Linked DNA regions of Homo sapiens: regions 2, 3 and 4 are each reported to be linked to region 1. The links are microRNA targets in miRTarBase. Many come from high-throughput screens and were not tested one by one. Region 1 holds a microRNA gene; each other region holds the end of a gene's coding sequence.
The links. The annotated mature microRNA hsa-miR-3666 reads CAGUGCAAGUGUAGAUGCCGA and lies in region 1 at 3,643-3,663, shown strand. An mRNA with a match to its seed (bases 2 to 7 or 8) in the 3' UTR can be bound and repressed. Matches are read on the target gene's strand: a 7mer-m8 pairs with bases 2 to 8, a 7mer-A1 pairs with bases 2 to 7 and ends in A, and an 8mer does both.

Region 2: the mRNA of OTUD3 is a reported target of hsa-miR-3666. Seed matches in the 3' UTR shown: 7mer-m8 at 5,569-5,575 and 8mer at 1,388-1,395.
Region 3: the mRNA of ATP6V0D1 is a reported target of hsa-miR-3666. Seed matches in the 3' UTR shown: 7mer-m8 at 6,072-6,078.
Region 4: the mRNA of SLC35E3 is a reported target of hsa-miR-3666. Seed matches in the 3' UTR shown: 7mer-m8 at 5,963-5,969 and 7mer-m8 at 1,560-1,566.

What each region holds. Positions count from the first base shown.
Region 1 is chr7:114,649,731-114,656,850 of GRCh38, forward strand. It overlaps MIR3666 (microRNA 3666), which reads left to right and starts at 3,615; the gene lies at 3,615-3,725. It overlaps FOXP2 (forkhead box P2), which reads left to right. Exons shown (of 17, transcript NM_014491.4): 9 at 2,473-2,560; 10 at 4,196-4,279. RefSeq lists an enhancer at 5,324-6,588.
Region 2 is chr1:19,906,869-19,913,976 of GRCh38, reverse strand. It overlaps OTUD3 (OTU deubiquitinase 3), which reads right to left. Exons shown (of 8, transcript NM_015207.2): 8 at 1,032-6,407. The coding sequence ends at 6,231. Among named protein-coding and RNA genes, the nearest start is that of PLA2G2E, 13 kb to the left of the region's middle.
Region 3 is chr16:67,432,428-67,439,544 of GRCh38, forward strand. It overlaps ATP6V0D1 (ATPase H+ transporting V0 subunit d1), which reads right to left. Exons shown (of 8, transcript NM_004691.5): 5 at 6,847-6,924; 6 at 6,544-6,720; 7 at 6,366-6,443; 8 at 5,592-6,262. The coding sequence ends at 6,101. HSD11B2 (hydroxysteroid 11-beta dehydrogenase 2) reads left to right here. Exons shown (of 5, transcript NM_000196.4): 2 at 3,201-3,413; 3 at 3,530-3,715; 4 at 3,822-3,959; 5 at 4,161-5,126. The coding sequence ends at 4,576. Among named protein-coding and RNA genes, the nearest start is that of HSD11B2, 4.9 kb to the left of the region's middle. RefSeq lists an enhancer at 3,059-3,560.
Region 4 is chr12:68,764,066-68,771,185 of GRCh38, reverse strand. It overlaps SLC35E3 (solute carrier family 35 member E3), which reads right to left. Exons shown (of 5, transcript NM_018656.5): 5 at 1-6,482. The coding sequence ends at 6,296. Among named protein-coding and RNA genes, the nearest start is that of SLC35E3, 21 kb to the right of the region's middle.

The DNA.
Region 1 (7,120 bases):
TAAACAATAGCGAGGAAAGGAGAAGGGAGATGTGGCAGAGGTATGTATGTGTTTTTCAAGTTCTCAGTAATCCACTGGAGGCTGTTCTATAAATGATCATTGAAGGGCTGCAAGCTAGCCTATAATTACAGGAAAGAAAGTGGCAGCTCTGGCATTTCATAACTATGTGTCCTCGAAAAGTGCTTTGTGAGTTTGTCACCAATGATAATTTAGATAGAGGCTCATTACTGAACATCACAACACTTTAAAAACCTTTCGCCTTCATACAGGAGAATAAAGGACTATTTTAATGGCAAGGTTCTTTTGTGTTCCACTGAAAAATTCAATCAAGACAAAACCTCATTGACTATTATTGTAGTCTACAGTCTCTATTCTAATAAAAGCTGCATAGATAAATTGAATAGGGCTCTAAGACCCAAGTATATAAAGCAAACATTTTGTACTTTTTTTAGTTCTTTAAATATAAGATCATGATTATCACTAAGCAGTAAACAAGTGTAGAAAATCATTTTAAAAAGTGATTTCACAAGAAAATGTTATAGTGACTATGCCTTTTATTGCAGACCTGTATGTTCTACTTATCTTGCTTCCTGCATTTACACCCTAATCTCAGTGTATAACTGAAGCATTTTTGAAAATATGCAACATTTTTTCTTATATGGAATAAATATGTTTGTGTTCCCCAAGAGTTCATGGTGAAAAAAAAAAAAATCTTACGGAAACACAGCAATATGAAGCCTTAAGAATACAACACACAACTGTATTATGCTGGTAGAAAATTGTCTTACTGTTCATTTAAATTTTGGGGGAAAAAACCCTGGGAAACAATTTTTAAATGTAGTCTTGTTATTTAGGAATTGGTGACACTTTCTGTTAACTAACCTCTGGCTTACTCTCACATTCCATACCTCCTTCCCAGAGAGCATGAGTGAATGTTAATCCTCCTCACAGGTTCACAGCAGAACAAACCTGAGCTGAGCTTAGAGAGCAGACAGGTATAGTGGAAGTGCCTCCCCTGCACTCCAGCCACACTCCTTCAGCTTGACCTTATCCACCTTGCTATTTTAGTCCACAGTTTCTCTTCAACCAAGACTGACATTGTGACAAGATACATGGAGGTTTTGTTGTTATGATCAATAAGGAAGTATTAAAACAAACTGGTTTAATTTATCAAGGTATAGGCAAAACAAAGGTTTCTGATTGTTGAACCTAGGTATATAAACAAATAAACCTTTTGTTTATAATAAAATTAGTTTTTATCAGCAACACGACTTTAATTACTCTTCATATGTTTTACATGTATGTGTCTTATATTTTTTCTGCCTCACTGTGATCTTCAAGAAATAAAAGTAAATAATTTGAATGGATACAAAAATATATTTGTTGAATTCAGTATACCCAGGGCTATTATAAACTTTTTAGACTATTATATCATTCTAAATGATACTTGAGCCCACTTGGGTAAATATATAAATTCTTATTTAATTTTGTGAATTTCTTTTCAATATGCCATTTCACTTATATGCAATGATGAGAACATCTCTGAAATTGTTGCCTTACTTTGCCCATTGGTGAAATAGATACACTAAAGGATATTGAATTACTTGAAGATTACTTTCTTTAATTTTGGGAAGCATCAAAGACATTATGTATTACAAATTACAGAGTATATATTATTAAATGTTTTCATGTTCATTGGAGATGCTGCTTTACTAAATTACTTTTGGTGTATTAACATACCACTCATTAAAGAGATCTCTTTAAACATCGTATAGAAATAATAATGGTAGACTAATGCATATTCAAGGTTAGAGTGAGATCATTTGGAATGATTTATTTTTCACCATTTTAAAAATAAGATTAGGACAAATGTCTCCTAGTTAGAACACTGGACATGAAATGTCAATCTTGTTATTCTAATGATCAAAATCTTCAATGAAGTTCTTTATTACTAACAGCAAATCATCATTCTTCATAAATATTGATTTTCCACGGGAGATAATTTGCCATCTTTACCTAATTCATACCACATCCCAATGAAATAAAACATTGCTCACTAAAATACATCATAGAAACAACAAACTGTTCTAACAATGAAATAGAAAATTGCCTTTGTTCTCTTCAGAATTGCTTTTGGTTCATAGATTTGTAAGCTGTTCTTTTTAAAAAAATGGCATAAATAATATGACTTCTACTATAACTCTGTAAATGGTCTGGGGAAATATTTTTTGTAATAACAGGTAAGCTTAGAGACAGTGACATTTTCTGCCATTTGAAGAGTCTCTTTACATTACATAAATAATTTTCACACAACACGTAAGCAGCTTTAACTTTTATCTGTATGGTTTCAAGGCTTTCTGTTTTCCCAGTGCACAGAAACATCTGACTTCAGTGTAGTGCTTTTTAAGTGTAGCCTATGCCACTAAGATCGACATCACTTTACATTCTGTTTTGTGTCTTCTGTTTGTTTAGGCACCTTAACAATGAACACGCATTGGATGACCGAAGCACTGCTCAGTGTCGAGTGCAAATGCAGGTGGTGCAACAGTTAGAAATACAGGTTTGTTAAATGCTCACTTAATGGACTCTTCTTAGATTTCTGGTGTGTTACATTGAGTACTGAGCAGATTCTGGGTCTTTCAGCCTGCATTTTACTGTCTTAGCCATTCAATACTAATGGAGATACATGATATTTTAGATTGTTTTAAACAGTGGCAATTATTGATAACCCAGGAAGGATTGCTGTAGTTTAATGTACTTATCACTTATATTTTTATAACTTTTAGACCACATCATATGAATTTGAATATCCCAAAGTAGTCAGATCTAAGTTTTTCCCAATGCAGGTTAGACCAAACTCCCAATTAGATATGATTTTATTACAGAGAGAGTTTTTACATGAGCTAACCTTGATTTTTTTCCATGAGATTTTATATTGTGGCAAATGACCAGTCTTTACAATATCATGCCTGTAATATAACTAACACCCTGAAAGATAACCTTTTCTTTTCTTTTTCTAGTGTAATTTTAATTAAAGAACTTGCAAAAAAATCTTTATACTTTTCTTTAGCTAGATTAAAGGCAGATAATTTATATCACAGATGATAATACACACATGTTGTATCAAATGCGACTGTTTTAAGTTAAAAAAAATTCTATTAATGTTGAAACAGAATTTGGCCAGAAGTAAATAGAATCCATAGAACTAATCAGAAAGCAATTATGTCACCCAAAGTCTGACTCTTGTTATGTTTTACTAAGCCTTTAAGGCTTTCTCTAACATTTCATCTTAAAGATGATCTTTTCTCAATGAAACTAATACTTTGTTTCATTTAAAGATACGATTTTTCTTCATATTTTATTACATCTTGTTTCAAATTCGTGTCATTGCTTTTTTCAGAGAGCTTACTAAAAATATTTTGTTTTGACTTGTAAAATAATCAAGAACACAAAAAGCACCATCACTGTTAAAGTTTAAAAAGCTTTTTATAAACCTGTTTACCATTTATAAAAGGTAGACTAAAACATAAGAGTTCAGCTGATGATACAGTCTTCGGTGTGACCAATTACGCCTATTTTTTTTTTTTCCTTCTGCTGTGTCTGACTGATGGAAAAGTAAGGTCCGTCAGTTGTAATGAGACCCAGTGCAAGTGTAGATGCCGACTCCGTGGCAGAGTTCAGCGTTTCACACTGCCTGGTCTCTGTCACTCTATTGAATTAGATTGATGATGGCAGATTGCAGGGGGCACTAACTGGACCTCAGTGGGAATGCATGAAGTGTGTAGACAATCCTGGCAGGCACTTTGCTTTGAGAACCCTTCACCCCTTCACAGCTGTTGGCACTAGTCCATTGCTAACAGTGTCCACAGGACTTTAAAGAGACACCATGGGCCTTCTAATTTATGGTTTCAGTAACTTGTTACTGTCGAGGCAACTGTGACCTCAATTCTCTTATTGACAAAAAGATGAAGTGTTATTTGTTTTCTCTGACCTTTTAACATAAGAAAAGCTATAAAAGTTTTTCCCCCTCCATAGCTAAAGTTGCATTTCCTCCCAGATAAGTTCCTCCTGACGCAGACTTTTACATGCAGGAATCATTATTCTGAGGCAAGCTCAATGATAAGATGTATCACTGCAATAAAATAGCTGTATCAGTCATTTCTAAAACGCTTCTGATCTCACTCTTTCTTAACAGCTTTCTAAAGAACGCGAACGTCTTCAAGCAATGATGACCCACTTGCACATGCGACCCTCAGAGCCCAAACCATCTCCCAAACCTGTAAGTGCATATTGCTTTATAAACAGTAAATAGCTCTACCAATGTAACAGACTAAGAAAATGAACAATTTAGTGACAGTTAGAAAACAATGAGTGTGATGAAAAATACGGCAATAAAATGAAAGTAAAATGTAATCGCTTGTCAAATTGTATGTTTCTTTTAAAGTAATGCTATCTTTTACAAAATCTATCCAATCTACACCATGGGTGACACTAAACAAAGTACACCTATCAGTGCACAAATCACTGCCTTGGGGCTGAAGCCAGAGAGAATTTCTTTCTGTGATAGGTTTACAGATATTAAAAGGAAACCCTCTTTGAGCAACCTGAAAAGTAGTAACGTACAAATCACAAATAGAAATGTATGTGGTGTGCTGAAGAAGGCAGATCAATCATAAGATACATATAAATAGATTTTTATCAAATATTTTGTCATAAAGGTCATGGTATTTTTATAGCCAATTTTGTCCTATTTCTTTGGTTATTTCAGTTAAGATGTATTTCACATATTGATATGTTTTATTGTACATTATACATAATGTTAATTTAGAGAGCTTATCACAAAAAGAAGTGGGTGATTATAGAAAATTAAGACTAGTTTCCCTCAAAAATATATGAGATTTAAGCTCAACCTAATAATGTAGTCAGATACACAGACTGTTGAAAAGAATATACTTTATCTCATTCAGCTGATGTTTGCACAGAAACTTAGAGTAATCAACTGGGTAACTCTAGTTTAATGAAAGTTTGTGGGATACTTTTTAATAAGGCCCCTGTATAGCCTGATGATTAATGATTGCCAGTCTTGCCTCTCCCTCTATTTCTTTAGGTAAAAAACGAACATTTGGCTTTGTAGTTGGGGAGGAGACAGAAGACGACTATATTGTCTAATTTTCTCGTAATGTCTCGATATTTCTTATCAATTAATATCATTCAAAATTTACTTTTTTGGTAGAGATTATATTTAAACTCTGCTAAGCTATTTCTGCTTTTCCTTTGTACTGTATTTAAAGGTAGAGTACTGTAAAAACATTTTTATAGGAAGAAAAAAGACATGTATCTTTTTGAATCTGACATACTACTTTTTAAACTCTAAAATGTCTGAGTTTTTAATTAAAAAATAAACTTTTGAGGATATTTTTGATCATGTATTTATGACTATCTTTTCAATAAGATTTTTTCCCTCATTGCTTCTATAGTATAATGTAGATAATCACAAGACAGAATAATTGTCTCATAAATCCATCAGGAATCTGCAGCTTGTTCTTTTCCAATTAATTATTCAATCAGTAAATTTTTTAAAACTCCAGCAGCATGGTTACATCTACACTAATAAAGAATTTTCAGCCTATAATCCAAAACAGAACCTGAATGAATAATGTAATTGAAGTATTACATTACATAAACCACACATGAAAGAATTGCTAATTGCGTTTGATGGTGGGCAATTAATACAGAATCTTAGATGAGCGATTTAAAATGAAACCACAGTTTAAAGTTCCCTTTGGAACTAGCGATATCTGAAGTGAGGAACTGCACTATTGGCCTCAGATCGGTTTGAAAGAAGAGTGGTCAATACTCACAACCCTCAAAAAAACCCTAAAATTTATACACTGTACAAAAGAAGCTTCAAAATTGATATGATAGTAGAGATTTATGGTCTCATGTGCAGTGGCTCAGTTGAGACGGCCCACACATTTGATAAATATTAATAGCATGAATTTATTACCAAGGAGAAATGAGCTCTGTTGGTTCATCACTGCACCCTTAACAGCTATCAGTACATGAACACAAGGTGCAACCGCACTGTCTATTATATGACCCCATTTACTCTCTGAATGGTACTTCATTAAATGGTACCTTTTGGCCATGCTATGGATGGATGAAAATCAAAGTTATCAAGGCTGCGAGTCCTGAATAATGAGTTTCACCCAACCTTGACTATATTCAGATGAGTCGAGGTGGCTAAGTGCTCATCCTAGCTTTTACATGCTTCCCTTTAGTTAATAATAAATTCTATTTTATCAGTTTGTGATTGTACGCCTACAAACATGGTATGCTTATTATTACAGGATAGCAGAATAAGTTACCGTAACATTGTAAACATGAGTGGTTTGCATTGAAAAAGATGTATTTCTCCTGTTTTGATAACTTTTAATGTGTTGGTAAAATGTACAGAGTCCTGTCACATATTCATCAGGATAGATATTTCATTGATTTGCAATTTGGTATTTTCTGGGTTCTGAATGTGCCATTTTGTTCTGGTTTGCAATTCTAAAAGTGAATATGTAACCATCCAGCTGAGTTTTTTTTTTTTATGTATGGGGAAATACTTTTCTTTTCTTTTCATATTTTTAACATACAAGTATGTAATGCTGATATTTTCTAAATATAACATTGTTATGTATATGTTCTGATGTTGATATTTTAGAATATTTGCAAAGTCACATACAGATGCATATGGATGTTTCTGCGTTTCTCAAACTATGCAGAGGTGCTCTTGTACATCCCAGAGAAGCTTACACCAGTGGCTTTGTAAATGTATTAAATGCAGCATTTAGGAGCATTATCTCAGCTTTCATTTATGTACGTAACAAAGAATTCCCTACCCAGTCTGCTGGCTTAGAGTATGAACAGAATAACAGTTTGTGGTTTATTGGGAACAGATGCACTTGGGGATGCCTTCAGGGTGCCAGTCGTTATTATTAGACTGCTAATGTGCTTCTTCTGGCTGCTGCCCAAGAAAGAAGAACAATTAGCTGGCATATGTTAATTTTTGTTTCCCTAACAAATCTCTCTACTGACTAAATGTGTAAAACAAATCCACAAAGAAAGATCAATC
Region 2 (7,108 bases), not on the chromosome of region 1:
CATCCTATCTCCCACACAGGATCTTACAGGTCACCTGGTCCAACGCTGCCCAAACAGGAAGCCCCTCTAATCCCTAGCAGCAGCCACCTGGCCCCAGCTGAATCCCTGGAATGGGATTAAGGAGGCCATGGAAGTTTTCCAGTGTGCGGGCAGCACCTGGATTGGGACATCACTTTGGACCATAGCAGATTTCCTGGAAGAATCTCAGGTTAAATGGGGTCTGGAATCTGGGCCTCACAGGCTCAGGAACCAGACAGTGTGTGTCTATCCAGAGATGATGGGTCTCTCAGTTGTGGACTGAAGAAGAATCACACAGAGAAGATCACTTGAGAGATTGTGGGAGAATCTGCTTGCAGAAGCTAGAATATTCTTGACTTTCATCCAGAAAACCATCTAGTCCTTTTTTGTGTCAAGGCAACAGGGAGCCAATTCAGAAGGCTGCTTGTTGAATACAAAATGAAGAATGGGAGAATGGGAGTCTCAAGGTCAAAATCATGACATGGTGAGGTCTGCCGAGCCAGAGCCCTTGTGTGGATGGGGCCCCTGCTGGACGCAATGAAGGACTCCCTTCGCTCTGGTTTCCTGTGGACCCTTCTAGGTGAGTTGTGCCCCCAGATGGTACTGTCTGTGCCTTGGCAGGGAGCCTCCTCCTTGAATGGGGTCAAACAATCTTGAGAGTTCTAGAGGAGCCCAAAGTGGCCGCTGACAGACAACTGCTACATATTTAAACAGTTTCAAACTTATCAAGAGATGCTCTCAGATATCAGGCAGAAATCTTAAGTGTGTAGTCCTTAAGAATGACCCTGCCATTGTGTTTGGTGGCTGCATTTAGCTGCACTAAAGCAAAAATCAGCTGTTCTAAGCTTAGTCAGATCCCAAAGTACTATTATACACCTAGAATACTCAATCCAGCACACGCAAACACGCAAAGCTTCCACACAAAGGTCTCCAAAAAGGACATTTCCCAGCACACTCAGCCTCCTTGCATTCACTCAAACGGTGGTCAGATACTGATAAAAACAACTTAAAACTTTGTTTTTAAACTAGAATTTATTGGTATACAAAACTCCATTTCATAGATAAAGTGGCACATCTTTGCAGCTTCTATTGCACCAAGTATCGAAGATTAAAAACACAAAAAAAGAAACATTTGGTTTTGAAAACACTGCAAATAGCCAAGTACAGTACTTTGGTAAATAAAAAATAAAATGGTTCAGATGAACACAATCCGTGGAAAGAAACAATCTAGGGGGAAGGAACTATGGACATCAGACAATGGTCACAATTCTCACCATCGAGCTCCATAGATAAGGCAAGACTTGCTAAGTCTATGGATCACGACCCCATGGAGGTCTTAAGTATCTCCAGACTGAAGCTAGAACAAGTATAGTGCAATTAGAAAGAGAGAAGGCCCCTCCTCCACGGATACATCCACCCCTCTGTAAAGGAGACTGACGCATGCCAACACTTCTACATGGGAAAGGGGAGCCCCCGGGTGTGACGTCTGACTCCTGGCCCTTTTCTTCTTTCCTCTGAGCTTAGTGCTGGTGGAGGCTCTGGAAGAGGCACTGGGGAGGCCAAGGGCCCTTCCTACTATGAAAAATGAACTGTAAGAGTGGGAAAATGTGTGAAGCCTCTTACCAGTACTGCTCGAGGGACCTGCCAGGGATCAAACCGCCAGCTGAGGTCTGTGGCTGAGCTCACATGATTGTCATGGATGGCTGGCAGCCTGCCGCAGGCTGACACGCCAAGGATGAGAGCCAGGCCACAGAGAGTCTGTCCGGCAATCGCCGCCAGCCGCAAGGACTGGCAGTGAGCAGCAGCAGCTCTGGATCACGGCTATGACCTGCTTAGAATAAATTCCCTATGCAAAAGTTCGTAGTTTTACAGAAATAGATTCTTTACACTGGTACCAGCCCCTTCTCAAGTAATTCTGCAAGGATGCTAAACATTTTCATGGAACCACAAAACAGTCCTAACGAGGACAGTAAAGAGAGGGACTCTACAAAGCAGCTGCTTCAAAGACATAGGTCAGAGCCTGAGGTTTTAAAGGAATTTCACCTTGGGAGAGAACTTCCAGGCCAACCACAAGGCACCGCTCTTTCCGGAGGTCCCCATCAGCGGTGTGCGGTAAGCTCTGCATCCTAAGTGCACGTGGTGACTGGTGCTCCGTGTTCTCTCCACGTTACAAATATGACTGTCCCCTTTCTAATATGCGATGGCAGACGTCGTAATTTATGCCATCTAGATCTTCAAATCAATGATGTCATTAAAAAAATACAATTTACTGGCCGGGCAGGGTTGCTCACACCCGTAATCCTAGCACTTTGGGAGGCTGAGGCGGGCAGATCACAAGGTCAGGAGTTTGAGACCAGCCTGGCTAACATGGTGAAACCCCGTCTCTACTAAAAATACAAAAATTAGCCAAGCATGGTGGCACACACCTGTAATCCCAGCTACTCAGGAGGCTGAGGCAGGAGAATCGCTTGAACCCGGGAGGTGGAGGTTGCAGTGAGCCGAGATTGCCCCACCACACTCCAGCCTGGGCAACAAAGCAAGACTCTGTCTCAAAAAAAAAAAAAAAAAAATTTACTTTAGAGCCAGGAAAACATAACTTATAAAAAGTCCATTATTAAATCACCTCAGAACAACTGTCAAAGGCCCCGGAGTTTTAGCAACACTTGTTCTGAAAGCTGTGAATAATGAGAATGGCAAAACAGAAAAACGGCATCAGACTGAGTCTAAAGATTTAACATGGCTAGACAGAGCCTTGAGGTAAGAAAGTGAAGAGCTACGCATCTACCCAAAACGGGAGTCGAAGAGGGCCACTGACGCAACACATTAAAATCAGGAAGCTCCATTCTCTTCCCCCCGCAGAGATCCTTTTGGTCAGGGTAACTTTTAGTCACCTCTGACTAGGAATCCAAGTTTCCTTCAACTGACTGAATATTTCACAGAGGTAAACTGATAGCATTCTATGCTGACCCAGTAAAACCCAGGCAGAGTCTACAGAGTTTCTCAGAATTAGAGAAATTGCACATTGACTACAGGGACTCACTACTAGTACAGTTCAGCGCTGAAGTCCACCTGATGCTACCTGTGTAATATGTGAGCAACTCCCCGACTGAAGGTGGCCCTCCTCCCACCCCACCCCCGACAATCACATCATTTCACACTGAAGCAGCTCCCTGGGGGAAGCAGGGCAGGCATAATAAATTACCCATGGAGAGGCTCCCTCCCAGCCAGCTCCAGCTGCTCCACAAGGGAGATCCCACTTCCCAAGCCCTCAGAATCAAACTGGCATTGGAAGTGTTTTCAGAGCTTAATAAAGAAACTACAGACAACTTCGACTAACATTTAAAATTCTTTCTGCCACAATTTCTCAACCATACTTTGCTCCTGAAAGTGTATGTTCATTATTATTGAAAAACTAAATACACACATACATTCTAACTTTCTAATATCTCCTAGTGGCAACTACATTATCTAGAAGTTATGGTTCTATGCTGCTTTAATACATCTACCTCTCTAGTTCAAAGCTGTTGCCACTAAAATGGTATTTATTTTGACCTCTAAAAAAAAATATTTTCAAAATCCGTAAAACCTTTATATACCGTTTATAAGAGCAGTAAGCAGCTATGCACCACTGCTCCATCCCCTTTCTCCTGACCACACTACAAGCTACCAAGACAATCTCATGTAACATAAATCTCTGCCAGCCAAGATGTAACACAGAGGTTAAGACACATTCAGTTCCTAATAAAGAGTTCACAGGAGCACCTGTACTAGAGTAACAGCTGCTGACAACAGTCATCCCAGGACTAGACATACTGGGCCTCCACTCGGGCTGCCAGTGAAGGAATTTTCAAGTGCCCACTGAGGCAACTAAGCATGTTGATTCCAACCTTCTCATGTACCCAGTGAGACTGAGGCAGTGAAGTCTAAATTGAAACCATTAGCTAGAAGGTATCACTGAAGTTGGATGCATGTACCCGATTCCTAATAATTAACACACTAAACAGACCAACTGTAACTGAAAAGCTGTGAAACCAGTAGTAAAATTACTAAAGCCGTTTGATTAGTTTTTTAAACCACCATTATTATACTCCAGAAATGCTGAAGCCTATTACCAGAATTAGGTAATTTAAAAAATAAATGTTCCCAATATTCTTTAATAACTTTTTAGCAGCTTCTAAAACTTCTAAAACCCAATAGGGCCCAAGGCCACCTTCATTAACCAAGTAAATAAAGCAATTCTACTACTTCTGACAATAAGTCTCTCTTAAGCTGACTGCTAATCTGAATTTCTGGCATACAATCTTATCTTTCTGAGAGGATCTGGCCTCTGCACTCAAGCAGTACAAAACAGACAGGAAAACATCTTCATTCAGAAACACTCAGCCAGTCAGGAATCTGCCCAGAGTTGAAAACCAAGACAACCATAGATCCTAACGCACTCGATCCCACTTCCTTAGAGTAAGGCAACAGAGATCTTTCATTCGTTTGGAATGAGTAGAGTAACACAGCCTCAAGCTCAGGACTCTGCGACGTGCACAGAAAAAAAATGCTGTGTACTTTTTTTAATCTGCTAAATTTTACAATGTACTGTACCCAGGAAGAAACCTAAACCACAATGTCCTAGGAGCAATTCCAAGAGACTACTGATGCTCCAACTACAAAAAGCCACCAAAGTCAAAAACAAAACCAAAAGATACCAGTGAAACTGAAGAAAGCCAAAGGCCTGGTGATAAAGACAATCTGGCGACTCCAGGGCCTACCAAACATTTTAGTTTTCAATTTGCCTCCGAATTTTTATAATTCTGAAATGCGAGGGGTGGGGAAGATAACTAATAATTTACCTTTCAACTCAGCATCAATTATTTGCCCAAGTATTAGGTCCCAAAAGACAAAGATGATCCAAGATGGGCTGCCTCATACGTTATAGTTCTTAAGTTCACATCCACCTAACTCAGTTTTAGGAAAGACGTCTCTCCACTGCTCAAGTCTGTCTATTTCAGAACTGAAGAGTGATTCGAAGGCCTCAACCAAAGTATGTTCTCTTCTCTGCTGGTCCAACCTAAGTCAACCAACCCTGCTGGTCCAACAACTTCCAGCAGATGCTGGAGTTTTCCCAACTTTGAAATGCCAAACAGGGCTTAAATAAAAAGAAATAAATGTAGCATTTTATAAGATTTAATTTCCACAATACTAAGTTTAGCGACCTATAAGGTCAAGTTACCACGTATCTCTCTGAAGGCATCTAAGTCTACAACAGAAGGGAAGAAAATCGTTATTTAAAATGCGAACATGAAAAACCTTATTCTTCCAGGCTTCTCCTATAAAAACATAATTCTTTAGACTCCTCTTAGGCAAAACCCCAGGAGTTCGTCTCCTGTTACAACTATAGACCCTGCTCTACACACTATCAGAATTCCAGAACTGTATCACAAGCAGTAACATGCCATCTCCCCACTGTCAGGAAACAAATACCAAAAACCCAACACCACTATCAACTTCCCAACAAGGCCAGGCCTAATTAACAGTCAGCTGCATTTATCATATGGCTTGAGTGCAAATGAACTAACAGCACCTGCATCCCATCTGAAATAACATCAGAATCAGGAAGGAGAGAAATGCGGTTAATTTCCATCCTGACTGCAGGCCACAACCCTCACGTAACTTTGGGAAAACAATTCCTGAATTATTTTCTGAGTAACTTGGATTAGAAGTAAATCAAAGCATATTCCTGAGTTGGAGATCATTTATAAGCTACCCTATATATCTGTTTGAGAATGAAAGAGAAACTAAGGAAACTTGTCATTCTGAATTTCTAACAATTATTCTAAACTACTCATGAACAATTACAGCAAAACTCACCCCAAATGTTAAGGAAAGATCCTAGGGTCACTGAAGTCTGATTTTCAGGGCAAATAAAGCCACCACTTAAAAGGTTTTTCCTGACCTAACTATCTGCCCCTAAAACTCAGTATTTTAATTTTGTATTACAGAATATGAATGGCCTCACTGCATTTTCATAAAACACCAACATATCACTAATAAAACTTCGAACAAAAAAAGAGGCAGCTTGAACGAAACTAACTCAGTGTGTGAGCTCATGTGTGGGCTTCGTTGGTTGTGTTGCGTTTTATAAAAGGACGGCCTCACTGGAAAGTCTAGCACACAGCAATCCTTTTCCAGCCGCTTCTTACAACTCCCAAGAGGCCAAAGAGTCAGATGTTGAGAGCGGCGAAGGTCTTCACCAAGGTGACCTGCGTGTTCGCCTCTGCTTCGCTTCTGTTATTGTCCCTGTGGCTACCTCTGCTCTCCAGGGCTTTGTGGCGGTGCCTCTCCTCCTGCCGCTTCTTCTTCTCCATCCACTGCTGTTCTCGCCTCTGTTTGTTTGTGACCTGAGAGAGAAGGCCATGGTGGTGAGTAGGAAGCACGGGGGACTCAAGCTGCCACCTGCTAGAAGGGAGATGGTGGCAAAGGGCACAGATTGCTTTTCAGCAGGAACAGGGAAAACCAATCTAAGACGCCAAAGATGATTTACTGTCCACTGCTGCTCAAATTTGCATTTAAATTTATATTTCCTTGCTGAACTAGCAAACAAAATCAATTCCATTCTTCTCTTAAAGAAACCAGCCCTCATCCAGCAAGAGTTGGTAACAAACAAACGTGTCAGAGAACATTTTTCCCCACATAATTTAATGCCCCAGGTAATTCTGACAAAATCCTCAGAAGCTTATTGCATCTCTGCCTCTGCTGTGGCTTTTTACACTGTGGCATTTTGAGCTCAGAACTTCTTGGTGAAAATCTTTAAAATGATTCCAAATTCAGTAAAATGGAAGATGTCACATACTACTTGTGGGAGTGAAGGGCAGGGAGGGAGATGTACCTTTCTGGGAAGCACGTGACAATTTACCAAAAGCCTTTAAAAGATTCATGTATCCATGACCTTTAACCTGTTCATTCCTCTTCTGGGACTTTATTCAAGAAAATAATGCAAAAACCAAAGATTTATACACAAAGGTGTTCATTGCAGATCATGGCATTTATAAAAAACATGGATAAACATGGGAAGAGCCCACATGTACAGTAATGTTAGGTG
Region 3 (7,117 bases), not on the chromosome of region 1:
GCAACCTGGCTTCTCAGAGACCTCGGTCTAGTAGGGGCCCTGTGTGATCAGATGGGGCTGGGAGAATTTTCCGGAGGAGGAAATCCTTGAGTGGGGCCTTGGAGCATGAGTGGAGATAAGTGGAGTATGAAAGGGATCTCGGATCAGAGAAAGGATGTGGGACAAAGGCTTAAGGCAGGAGTACACACGGTCTCTGTAGGGGACAGCCAGTCTGGGTGTGGGGGTGGGGAGAAGGGGATATGAGGTGGTTTCCTTGGGAGGGGCCATGAATCAGGTAAGAAGCCAGACTGCTGAGGCAGAGTAGGGGGGAAGGAGGCACAAGGGCCTTGCACTCCAGCAAAGATGGTAGAGATGGGGAAGCATTCGGGCTGGACAGGAGAGACCCAGGTTCCAGGCGCAGTGTGAAGCCTCAGCAGACCCCAGTTTCAGAGGTTTGAGGAAGGAAAATCAACAGACACCCCGGGTATGAAGTAGGGGCCAGGTTGTGGGCTCTGCCTCTGGGGACAGGGCAGATCCCTTCCTGCTTTATTTGTGAGCCACCTCAACAGGACCCAGGCCATCTGCAGGTACTAGTGGCCTAGCTGGGTAGTCTTTCCTGAGGTCTCACCTCAGGCCTTTGTGCTGCTGCTGTTGCTTCTGGCCTTGAGCCTGAGAGAGAGGTGAGAGGAAGGATGCTTTCTCTAACTTGGGCTCCTCCAATCTCTGGTTGCAAAGCTGGGGTTGGGGGAGAGAGGACCACCCAACCTGCCCTGTACAAGCATCAGTAAGACTCCAAGTTTCCCAGGGCCCGAACACTTGGGGGTTGTCTCTCAACACCCGGCTGGAAGACAAGTAGGTAACCAGGTTCAGCCCCACCTGCCAAGAACACTGTGTTTTGGGCCTGGCAGAGCTGCTACTCCCCCTCTCCCTCCTAAGAATGCCCAGAGAATCACTTGCCAAGGCTACTCCTGGAGCTCAGCTGTGGGATCAGGGTTTGGGCTGAGGATCAGGTGCCTGTGTGCACACATGTGCACATGTGTGTGCCAATGGGTGGTAGGGATTGAGCCCGTTGTGAGAACATCCAGCCAGGTTGGAAGTGTGTACAGGTATCTGAGGGTGTGCACGTGAGCAAGAGGGTGTGCAAGATGTGGGTGACTGTTGGGACCACAGAGCTGAGGCCTGTGGTCAGCTCAGGTCAGAACTGGGAGGTCTGTTTCCCTTGGGAGGACCTGTCTGCTCTGAGGGGGACCCGGACAAGTGCACATATGCATGTGTGTGTCTACACACACACACACACACACACACACACACACACACACACATATGCTTGCCTCCCTCTCCAAGGCAGACTTGCCTGGGAAGTACCCCTCCTCAGCAGGAGCTCGAAGACCCCTGCCCAGTGCTGTTTTCAGTAGAGGGAGTGGAGCTGAGATGGGGAGACCGTACTGAGCGGTCCAGGAGTAGGGAAACAGAGCTGCTTTGCAGCTTCTGTTCCAGAAGATGGGGGTTGGGGGGCGGGGTTGAGGGCCAGGGGTGGGAGCAGGAGCAGAACAGAAAGCCTCCCTGCTCACTGGCCTTTCCCCTTCCCTCACTGGCTGCCCATGGAGCCAGGATCAGCATGGGAACAATCAAGGAGGCAGGGGCTTATCAGTACTATGGACCCCTACACTGGCTCTGCCTGGTGGTTCTTCTCTTCGCATACCAAAGACAGAAATTAAGCCTCCAAGAGTGGTAACTGACCTCGGTCACACTTGGTGGGTGTGGGAAAGGATTCAAATGTAGGTCTGTTCTCTTCTTCATCTATCATGGTCCCTGTCCTGGAGGCAAGTCGTCTGGGGCTCAGAAAACACCCCTGTTGCCACTGATTGGAATTCCAAGGGTCTGGGTGAAGTGGGGATGGGCCTCCAGCTTGCCTCCAGCCTGAAAAAATAGTAGAGGGTGTTGAGGCTGGGAAGGGAGGTGGGGCTCATGTTGTACAGGGCCTGAGCCAGGGAGCTTGGGCTTCATTCTGAGTACTGTGGCAGCCCTGGGAAGGTTTGTAGCACAGAGGGATATTGTCATTTTTGGAAAGATCCCTTTGGCTGCTTAGGTAGAGAAGGGCTTCAAGAGGGCAGGAAGGGACAGGACTACAGAAGGGGCTGCTTCAGAGTCCAGATTAAGGAAGGAGAGGCCTGGGCAGTCAGAAAGGAAGAGAAGCCGGATGTGGTGGCTTGTATCTTCAATCCCAGCACTTTGAGAGGCCAAGGTGGGAGGATCACTTGAGCCCAGGAGTTCAAAACCAGCTTGGGCAACATAGTGAGACTCCCATCTCTCCAAAAAAATTTAAAAACCAGCCAGGTAGACTGGGCGCAGTGGCTCACGCCTGTAATCCCAGAACTTTGGGAGGCCGAGGCAGGCAGATCACGAGGTCAAGAGTTAGAGACCAGCCTGACCAACATGGTGAAACCCCGTCTCTACTAAAAATACAAAACTTAGCCAGGCCTGTGGTGATGCGCACCTGTAGTCTCAGCTACTCAGGAGGCTGAGGCAGGAGAATCGCTTGAACCCGGGAGGCAGAGGTTGCACTGAGCTGAGATCACGCCACTGCACTCCAGCCTGGGCAACAGAGTGAGACTCCGTCTCAAACAAAAAAAAAAAAAAAGAAAAAACCAGCCAGGCGTGGTGACACAGGCCTGTAGTCCCAGCTACTCAGGAGACCGAGGAGGAAGGAATGCTTGGGCCCAGGAGGGGAGGTTGCAGTGAGCCAAGATCATGCCACTGCACTCCAGCCTGGGCAACAGAGCGAGACCCTGTCTCAAAAAAAAAAAAAAAAAAAAGAGAAAGGGAGGCTCCTACTAATACTGTGCCTGTGCCTGTGAGCTGTGGCCTGAAATCAAGAAAGCAGAACCACACTGGGGCCTGGGACTGTCCCAGACCTGACCTGTGTGAATTTGGGAAGCAACTTAGCATTACTAGGCCTTAGTTTCCTCTTCTGTAAGCCACATTAGTGGGGTAGCCACGGGGAGTCAGGCAGATGACAGCTGTCACAGAGTTACTGCCCAGGGCTCAGCTAGAGGGACACAGCCTGCCAGGGATGGGCCTAGGGAAGGAGTTAGGGTTGTTGACTGCTGGTGGCTTGGTTTGCAGGGGCCTGGATCCCATCCAGACCCTGGTGATTCTGGGGTTGTCTCAGGCTAGGCTGGGCCACAGTGGAAGTTCACTGACTGCCCTGGCCTGGCCAGGCTGTGACTCTGGTTTTGGCAAGGAGACGGCCAAGAAACTGGACTCCATGGGCTTCACGGTGCTGGCCACCGTATTGGAGTTGAACAGCCCCGGTGCCATCGAGCTGCGTACCTGCTGCTCCCCTCGCCTAAGGCTGCTGCAGATGGACCTGACCAAACCAGGAGACATTAGCCGCGTGCTAGAGTTCACCAAGGCCCACACCACCAGCACCGGTCAGTGGCAAGTGTCCACCAGGCAAGGGCGTGGCAGGGGAGTGGGAAGGACACGGGGACTGGAAGTTTGCTGCTGGGCTGACCTAAGGCTTCCCTCCTCTGCTCTGTGACCCCAGGCCTGTGGGGCCTCGTCAACAACGCAGGCCACAATGAAGTAGTTGCTGATGCGGAGCTGTCTCCAGTGGCCACTTTCCGTAGCTGCATGGAGGTGAATTTCTTTGGCGCGCTCGAGCTGACCAAGGGCCTCCTGCCCCTGCTGCGCAGCTCAAGGGGCCGCATCGTGACTGTGGGGAGCCCAGCGGGTGAGTGCCCCCCCCCACTGGAGCAAAAAGGAGCCCCCTGGGGTGGGGGAGGGCTTAGGGAGCCCCTTGCCAAAGCTGAGCTGCCCCACTCCCAATCCATCCGCAGGGGACATGCCATATCCGTGCTTGGGGGCCTATGGAACCTCCAAAGCGGCCGTGGCGCTACTCATGGACACATTCAGCTGTGAACTCCTTCCCTGGGGGGTCAAGGTCAGCATCATCCAGCCTGGCTGCTTCAAGACAGGTGGGAATCAGGGCTGGGGGTGGGGTGGGGGTGGGGAATGGGGCTGGGAATGGTCTTATGGGGGCAGGTCAGGTTTGATGAATGGTCATGGTTTTGGTTGGGGGTGTAGTTTTGGCTGCAGACCTGGCGCGGGTTAAACAGTCCTAATTGGCTTTGGCTCCCCTAGCTGATCCCACTCTGACCTTGCCACTCCTTCCCCAGAGTCAGTGAGAAACGTGGGTCAGTGGGAAAAGCGCAAGCAATTGCTGCTGGCCAACCTGCCTCAAGAGCTGCTGCAGGCCTACGGCAAGGACTACATCGAGCACTTGCATGGGCAGTTCCTGCACTCGCTACGCCTGGCCATGTCCGACCTCACCCCAGTTGTAGATGCCATCACAGATGCGCTGCTGGCAGCTCGGCCCCGCCGCCGCTATTACCCCGGCCAGGGCCTGGGGCTCATGTACTTCATCCACTACTACCTGCCTGAAGGCCTGCGGCGCCGCTTCCTGCAGGCCTTCTTCATCAGTCACTGTCTGCCTCGAGCACTGCAGCCTGGCCAGCCTGGCACTACCCCACCACAGGACGCAGCCCAGGACCCAAACCTGAGCCCCGGCCCTTCCCCAGCAGTGGCTCGGTGAGCCATGTGCACCTATGGCCCAGCCACTGCAGCACAGGAGGCTCCGTGAGCCCTTGGTTCCTCCCCGAAAACCCCCAGCATTACGATCCCCCAAGTGTCCTGGACCCTGGCCTAAAGAATCCCACCCCCACTTCATGCCCACTGCCGATGCCCAATCCAGGCCCGGTGAGGCCAAGGTTTCCCAGTGAGCCTCTGCGCCTCTCCACTGTTTCATGAGCCCAAACACCCTCCTGGCACAACGCTCTACCCTGCAGCTTGGAGAACTCCGCTGGATGGGGAGTCTCATGCAAGACTTCACTGCAGCCTTTCACAGGACTCTGCAGATAGTGCCTCTGCAAACTAAGGAGTGACTAGGTGGGTTGGGGACCCCCTCAGGATTGTTTCTCGGCACCAGTGCCTCAGTGCTGCAATTGAGGGCTAAATCCCAAGTGTCTCTTGACTGGCTCAAGAATTAGGGCCCCAACTACACACCCCCAAGCCACAGGGAAGCATGTACTGTACTTCCCAATTGCCACATTTTAAATAAAGACAAATTTTTATTTCTTCTAAAATGCGGCAGGTGCTGTTTGGAGGGGGTCACTGACTGGCTGGCTGAGTGACACAGTGTGGCCGTGTGACAGGGTGGCAACTCCTGGGGCTCAGCGTGGAGGCTGGGATTCCCCTGGTAGACTCTGGTTCACACCTCCCCCTCCTCCACTGACCTGGGGCAAATCATTTCAGACCATGGGTTTCCTCATAGTGAAATGGGGGTAATGACACTGATCCCAATTGCTTGAAGCAACTGGGGAGGCCAGGGGGGCCTCCAGGGCCAACATCTAGCTCCCCAGGCCTGTATGCATCTGAGCCTCCAGCAGAAGAAGGGGCTATCTCCCTGGGACTCCCCAACCCTGAAGAATCTCGGCTGCTGACTGAGGGAGGGAGGTGGAGGCTTAGGCAGGGTTGCTTAGCAAGGTGGGGTCACGAGGGAAGTTAGGGGTCATGGAGAGGTACCAGGGCCTAAACGAGACAGCAGACAGTTGGCCTTAGAGAGGGCAGTTTTATTGTCTCAGAGGGGCAGGGCTGAGGGAGGGAGCTGAGGAGCAACATCCCCCCAGGCCCCAAGGACACACACACTCTGTCCTTCCCATGGGCCATGGCTCTGGGAGCGACCCACAGAAGGGAGAGGAGGCTCAAACTGCCCCCAGGCCCCAGGGTTCTCAGGTCAGGGAGTTAGGGAGGAACATGAAAGTGACATGCTTCTTAGATACATCAGCGGCTGTAACCACAGGGCTGAGGGGGCCTCCTTGCTCTGGAGGGGGTCTTCGTCCATCCTTGGTGGGGGGGGGTGCCCAGCCCCTTTTCAGGCCTAAGAACAGTCTCTAAGAGGGTCAGGAGAACTGGGCAGCCGCTAGGACAGCGTACTACACCCCGGACAGGCAGGTGAGCCACAGGCTTGTCACAGACCACATACACACACACGCACACACACGCGCACACACACACACACACACACAAAGAGTGCAATTGAGAGCCTTGGGCCAGGACGCTAGAAGATAGGGATGTAGTTGTCGATTTTGGCGCGGTGGCGCTGGGCGATACATTCAGCGATCCACACGATGTTGCGACACTCCTGCTCCTTGAGCTTCACGAAGGCATAGAAGACACCAAAGTGGAACTGGTTCAGGAAGGCCAACTTGTTCAGCTTTACCTGTGGACACGGGCAGATGTGGTGTCCAGGTGGCCATGGCCACAGAGTCAGGTCTAAACCACCAGGTTGGCCTCCCTCTGACAAGCAGACCCTGCAGACTCACCTCGTGCTCAAAGAATCGGTCCTCCAGCGTCTTGTCTCCAGGGTTGCTACCTGCACCCTCGAAGAGCAGCTTGTACTCCTGGCCAGGGGGGTGGGGGGAAGCACAAGCATGAGGGTTCTGGGTGGGGGTGCTTGGTGACAACACATCCAACCGCTGTCCTGCCAGCCGGGGCACTCACCGGGTAGTAATCGGCCACGTTCTTGACCTGTTCATAGTCGTCAGCCCGAGCCAGCTGCGCCAGGCCCTCAGGGTAGAGCCGCCCACAGTGTGGAAAGAGCTTGGCACGGTCCTCTTTGGACAGCTCTGTGCCGAAAGAATTGATGGTGATGATGAAGGCGCGGCGGTCTGCTTCAAACTGTGGAGCCAGTGCACAGGTAAGAAGAGAGGGAGGAAGAAGGAGGCAGTAGCCAGTCAGTTGGCAGAGCCTCCCCAGGCCAGGGCTAGCGGGCACCAGCAGGCAGGAGGGCGGGCAGGCACTCACCTCCAGGATGGGGCACATGGCATCAGCCGTAGTCCCGCCCAGTAGGGTGCAGAACTTGTAGAAGGACTCCAGGTAGGCCTGTAGAGAGTATGGAGCTTGCTCAGCACAGGCAAGGAAGCTCTGGAGGGCTTGCTAGGCACAAGCCCTCACAGCTCCCTCCTCCCCTCCCTAGCCCCTTTCAAGGTGGGTACAAGCACACCCATGGATGGGCCGGGGCAGCCCTTACAGCAAAGCCAATGAAACACTTCTGTGAATCAGCCAAGTGGCAGCT
Region 4 (7,120 bases), not on the chromosome of region 1:
TCTCCTGCCTCAGCCTCCTAAGTAGCTGGGATTATAGGCATGCACCACCGCACACAGCTAATTTTTGTACTTTTAGTAGAGACGGGGTTTCACCATGTTGGTCAGGCTGGTCTCAAACTCCTGATCTGAAGTGATCTGACTGCCTCAGCTTCCCAAAGTGCTGGGATTACAAGCCTGAGCCACCATGCCTGGCCAACATCTTTAATTGGATATCTCAGTATCAAGAAGGCCCATAATATTCCTCTGCCTCATCCCTCTCCTCAGTCCTCTTCTTGTGTTTCCTAGTTCAGAGAATGGCACCATTCTCTATCAAGCTGCGCAAATCAGACATGTGTGATTTTTTGTTGTTGTTGAGACAGGGACTCACTCTGTCACCCAGGCTAGAGTGCAGTGGCGTGATCATGGCGCACTGAAGCCTCAAACTCCTGGGCTCAGGAGATCCTCCCGCCTCAGCCTCCTGAGTAGCTGGGACCACAGGCCCACACCACCATGCCCAGCTAATTTTGTATTCTTTGTAGAGATGGGGTTTCATCATGTTTGCCCAGGCTGGTCTCGAACTCCTGGACTCAAGCAATCCACCCACCTCAGCCTCCCAAAGTGCTGGGATTACAGGCATGAGCCACTGTGCCCAGCTGAAGTGTGATCCTTAACTTCACCCCTTCTCATGCCCTCCATTTCCAATCCATCTCCAGTCCAGTTGACTCCAGCTACTCAATTATTTCCACTTATCTCATTCCACTACCTTTGAAGCTACCACCATCTCTAACTACAGTCATCTCCCAACTAACTGGTCTCCTGGCATCTCTCTGGTTCTCCTCCACTAATTTCAAAAAAAGAAATTTACTGTGACAGTGCTCACAACACTCCCCCTTGCTCTTACTAAAGATGCTTACCATAGCCTCCAGGTATTGTATGGCCTGAGGTCTATCTACATTTCCAGGTGCAGGACACACCATGTCTCCCCACTCCCAAATTTAGTCTCCAGACTCCATCCTTTTTACAGTTCTTTAAAAGCATCACAATTCCTCCAACCACTAGGCATTTGTATGTGCTATTCCCTCTTTCCAGAATGCAATACCCTCCCTCTGCCTAGCTAGCTAACTTCTATGTATCTATGACTGCAGCTCAAACTTTCCTCATGGACTCCCTCCACAAGTGCCAAGCCTGGGCCAGATTCTTTTGTTATGTGCTCACAGAACGATGTTCCCTTTAGCATTCATTGAGTTTGCTGTTTAATTATTCTTGTCTTGTTTTTGTTTAATTAGTCCTATCTCTAATACTAGACAAATGTTCCTTAAGATCACAGGAAATATAGGACTGTCTCTACATAAAAACTGTTTTATATCCATAATGCCTAGGACAGTACCTGGCACACAGTATATGCTCAATAAATTTTTGTTGAATGAATGCAATTATCATTATATTCCTGATATTAGCAGGTATAATCCAGTTTAAGTTTGGGAACAGAAAGACAAAACGGACCACATCTAATAAATCCGGTCTCCTTTCTTTTATTATTTATTTATTTGAGACAGTTTTGCTCTTGTTGCCCAGGCTGCAGTGCAATGGCATGATCTTGGCTCACTGAAACCTCCGCCTCCCAAGTTCAAGGGATTCTCCAGCCTCAGCCTCCCAAGTAGCTGGGATTACAGGCATCCACCACCACGCCCAGCTAATTTTTTTGTATTTTTAGTAGAGATGGGGTTTCACCATGTTGGCCAGGCTGGTCTCGAACTCCTGACCTCAGGTGATCCACCCACCTCAGCCTCCCAAAGTGTTGGGATTACAGGCGTGAGCCACCGTGCCCGGCCAAGGTCTCCTTTCTTTTAATCAAACTCTCACCTTTGGCCATTCTGCAGTCATTCACCCGACAGTATTTACTGACGGAGTGAATACAGAGTGCTTGATTAATGTTGCTGCTTTGTTATTATTATTATTATTATTGAGATGGAGTCTTGCTCTGTTGCCCAGGCTGGAGTGCAGTGGCGTGATCTCGGCTCACTGCAACCTCCGCCTCCCGGGTTCAAGCCATTCTCCTGCCTCAGCCTCCCAAGTAGCTGGGACTACAGGCATGCAACACCACACCTGGCTAATTTTTGTATTTTTAGTAGAGACAAGGTTTCACCATATTGGCCAGGCTGGTCTTGAACTCCTGACCTCAGGTGATCTGCCCACCTCAGCTTCCCAAAGTGCTGGGATTACAGGCGTGAGCCACCATACCCAACCTAATGTTTCTGCTTTGAAATACAATTTCAAAAAGTCATTAATAGGTTGAAAACAGCAAGATTTTAAAAGTATTTTAAAAAGTGAAACAGAAGAATGCTTACTTCATTTCACAGAGATAGATTTCTCCTTTATGTTATTTCTAAAAGGAGATGGAATTTTGTTTCATTCATTTCTGCTTATTTGGACAGGCCAAATATGAACAGCTGAACACGTCAGCGTTACCATGCATATGTTACACAGATGCCATCCTTCTTCCATCAGCTCTCATATGCAATACAGAAGTAAAAAGAGGTTCTCTTTATTTTTAAAAGGTAAAAATTGAAATTCAGTCACTTAACACAGAATAAACAATAATTACAATTACACTGGTAACAAAGGACAGCAAGCATGTTTTCTTTGAAAGCACTGTATCTGGTTTGTCTCCGTGCTTGGTCCTAGTATCTGGCATATTTTCCCCAGAGTTTTCTTTTCAGTGGGATGATTATCTTCGGGGCAAAAAAGTTTATCAGACTCAAGTTTTAGCAGTACTTATTTTATTCATTTATATACATGTAACCCCATCCTGTCTTACTCCAATCTTCTTACTGCCTTCCTACTGACACATATATTATATAACACCCTCCCCAAGTTCTATTTACGGTTAAAAATTTCTTTTTTTTTTTCTTTTTTTGAGACAGAGTTTCACTCTCGTCACCCAGGCTGGTGTGCAATGGCGCAGTCTCGGCTCACTGCAACCTCCGACTCCCTGGTTCAAGTGATTCTCCTGTCTCAGCCTCCCGAGTAGCTGGAATTACAGGCGCCCGCCACCATGCCCAGCTAATTTTTGTATTTTTAGTAGAGACAGTGTTTCGCCATGTTGGCCAGGCTGGTCTCAAACTCCTGACCTCAGGTGATCCACCCGCCTTGGCCTCTCAAAGTGCTGGGATTATAGGCGTAAGCCACTGCGCCCAGCCTACAGTTACGAATTTCTAAATGGCACAAATAAACTCAGCTGTTCTCAGTGCAGACGTCAAATCCTCACTGTGCTGAAACATTTTCCTCAGCTTTTGGGAAATAATTACAATTTAAACATACACAGAGAATGTTTCTTAGACAAACATAATACCCGAGGCTTATCTGGTAAAAACTAATTGCTCTGTCCTTAGCACAAAAAATATATATCTTTGTAAAATGAGAAGAACCAAAGAATATTTAAAACAAAGAAGGAAGCCACACGTACTAATTACACAAGAGACTGACTGACAAACTGGAATTCTCCAAAACAGATTTTCAGCGAGGCTTCTCATTTCAGAGTCCAGGAAAAAAAAATCCTAAAAACCCCAAAGGTATATTATATGTGTGTATATATATTTTTATTGTGTTAAAAAACACAAAACATAAAATTTACTGTCTTATCAAAAGGTATATTTTGTCGCTCTTCCCTTTTTTTTTTTTTTTTTTTCCCGAGACAGAGTCCAGTCTGTCGCCCAGGCTGAAGTGCAGTGGCATGATCTCGGCTCACTGCAACCTGCATCTTCTGGGCTCAAGCAATCCTCCCACCTCAGCCTCCTGAGTAGATGGAGCTACAGGCACGTGCCACTAGGCCCGGCTAATTTTTGTATTTTTTGCAGACAGGGTTTTGCCATGTTGCCCGGGCTGGTCTTTGTTCTCCTAAGAGTTGTTTTCTCCATGAAAGTTGATAAATAACATTTAGAAAATGAATTATTACAAGAGTAATGATATGTCTCAATTTATTATATGAAATTATCAACAACTGCTTTTAATATTCAGATGTCAAGAAGATGAAAAGCAGAAATACATTTTGCAAACATGTAGCACTCCATAAATGGAAATCATGTATTTCCTCTAATATCCCAATTTTTCTATATTGGGATCTTATATGGCTGTTTCTATATGGCTATTTTGTCCCAACTTGCTGTACAAGAATTTTCCCCAGCCACCTTAGAAAGGTTGGATGTAGTTCACTCCAAGTTTGCAGTTCACTCCAAGTGTTTCAGTACCACAGAAAGCTCCATGGAAGCCTCAAATGTACGGGCTAGGCAATAGAAGCAGGGAGGTAGGATTAAGAAATTACTGGCCAGGTGTGGTGGCTCAGGCCTGTAATCCCAGCACTTCGAGAGGCTGAGGCAGACAGATGGCTTGAGCTCAAGAGTTTGAGATCAGCCTGAGCAACATGGCAAAACTCTGTCTCTACAAAAAATATAAAAATCAGCCAGGTATGTTGGTGTGCACCTGTAGTCCCAGCTACTGGGGAGGTTGAGGCAGGAGGATTGCTTGAGCCCAGGAGGCTGAGGCTGCAGTGAGCCATGATTGTGCCACTGCATTCCAGCCTGGTCGACTGTAAGACAAAAAATAAGAAAATAAAAAATTTACCAATATAAAATGCTCAAACAGCTAACAAACATGTTCAATTCCATTTATAGTCTTTTCTTTGAGCCATTTAAACATAGGGCTATTTTTTTTTTTTTTTTTTGAGATGGAGTTTCACTCTTGTTGCCCAGGCTGGAGAGCAATGGCATGATCTCGGCTCACCACAACCTCTGCCTCCTGGGTTCAAGCGATTCTCCTGCCTCAGCCTCCCGAGCAGCTGGGATTACAGGCATGTGCCACCATGCCTGGCTAATTTTGTATTTTTAGTAGAGACGGGATTCCTCCATGTTGGTCAGACTGGTCTTGAACTCCCAACCTCAGGTGATCTGCCTGCCTCAACCTTCCAAAGTGCTGGGATTACAGGTGTGAGCCACTGAGATTGGCTGCCGTTTTGTTTTTTAACTCCATATAGTTTCTATAGTTCACTGAAAACTCAAAGAGATGACCTATAAATGTATGAATAATGTATGATTTCTTACATCAATTTTCTACTAGAAAAAAATCATACTTTTAGAATTGGATTTTGTCTTACAGTCATCTTTATTATACTTTATAAATGAGATTTCATTTATATAAATCAGGAAGCTAAACTAAAATAGAAACACTAGATTTAAATTCTGATTTGAATACTCTGATCAAAATAACAAATCTCACACTGGGAAACCATCTATCAGCAAGCAGAGAGCTACTGTGTGTCCTTCCTTAGAAGAGTTTGAACACCGAGAACCCACAGCATATTTGCAGTACAGTAACAGCAATTCCTTTGTCATTATCACAGAACTTTAATTTTCATATACTTTGCTGGGACCAACCAAACCATCCCATATATATAACCATATCCATATATATATATATATATATCCCACATATATATGGGATGGTATATATATACACATGTATATGTATGTGTGTGTGTATATATGTGTATATATGTATACACACACACACACACACATATATATATATATACACACACACACATATATATATGGAGAGAGAGAGAGAGACAGTGTCTTGCTCTGTCGCCCAGGCTGGAGTGCAGTGGTACGATCTTGGCTCATTGCAACCTCCGCCTCCCAGGCTCAAGCGATTCTCATGTCTCAGTCTCCCAAGTAGCTGGGATTACAGGTGTGCACCACCACACCAGGCTAACCATTCCATACATTTTATACAATCATTTTTAAAAAGAAGCATGAACCATTTCGGTTTTAGAGAATTAAGTTTTTTTAAAAAAGAGACTCTTAAAAAAAAGTCATTATATGAATAAAATCTGCTTTGTGTTAATTCCGACAAATCATTCCATCATTGAGTCTGTCACCAATTTTTTTTTTTTGAAATGGAGTTTCGCTCTTGTTGCCCAGGCTGGAGTGCAATGGTACGATCTCGGCTCACTGCAACCGCCGCCTCCCGGGTTCAAGTGATTCTCCTGCCTCAGCCTCCCGAGTAGCTGGGATTACAGGCATGCGCCACCACGCCTGGCTAATTTTGTATTATTAGTTGAGACAGGGTTTCTCCATGTTGGTCAGGCTGGTCTCGAACTCCTGACCTCAAGTGATCCGCTGGCCTTGGCCTCCCAAAGTGCTGGGATTACAGGCGTGAGCCACCGTGCCTGGCCCAATTTTTTTTTTTTAATAACTTGCACACTTAACAATATTTTTTATCTTCTTGGGACAACATTCTTTTCTCCACAAAAACCCAATTAAGGACGTTGTGCCAGTTTACTCCTACTTCCTTCCTGTTCACTGAGCTTAAAGTGGGTATAGGCGAGAATGCCAAATAATGTACATAAAATGCCAAGGGCCTGATTAATGGACAGTGGATCCTTAAATAAAACATATCCTCCGAATAAAGTAATGCAGAACTTGAAGTGTCCGAACATGTTATAGCTGAGGTTTTTGGATAAGGATAAAAAGGAATAACAAGATAGATGTTAATATTTACACACACACTCGCACTGCATAAAACAACCCAAAAGCAGCCCATCAGATGTAAAGAACAATGGGACCAGGCGTGGTGGATCATGCCTGTAATCCCAGCACTTTGGGAAGCTGAGGTGGTGGATCACTTGAGGCTGGGAATTTGAGACCAGCCTGGCCATCATGGTGAAACCTTGTCTCTACAAAAAATACAAAAATTAGCTGGGCGTGGTGGCACATGCCTTCAATCCCAGCTACTTGGGAGCCTGAGGCATGAGAATCACTTAAACCCAGGAGGTGGAGGTTGCAGTGAGCCAAGAATGCACAACTGCACTCTAGTCCAGGCGACAGAACAAGACTGTCTAAAAAAAGAGAATAATGGGAACTTCTTAGTTTCTTCAGGTAGGTTTTAGCGATTGATTCATCAGAGACACAAGACTGCCTCAACCATTCCTACTGACCTCCAAAAAAGAAAAGGGATACAATATAAAAGGAAAGACCTTCAAACAAGGTCCAGGGAAGGTATTTTGTACAGCAATTTATAATTATGTTTTACAGTGGTGTTTCCTTGGGAAATGAAGTGAGATATGTAAGGTACCAAAGAGCTA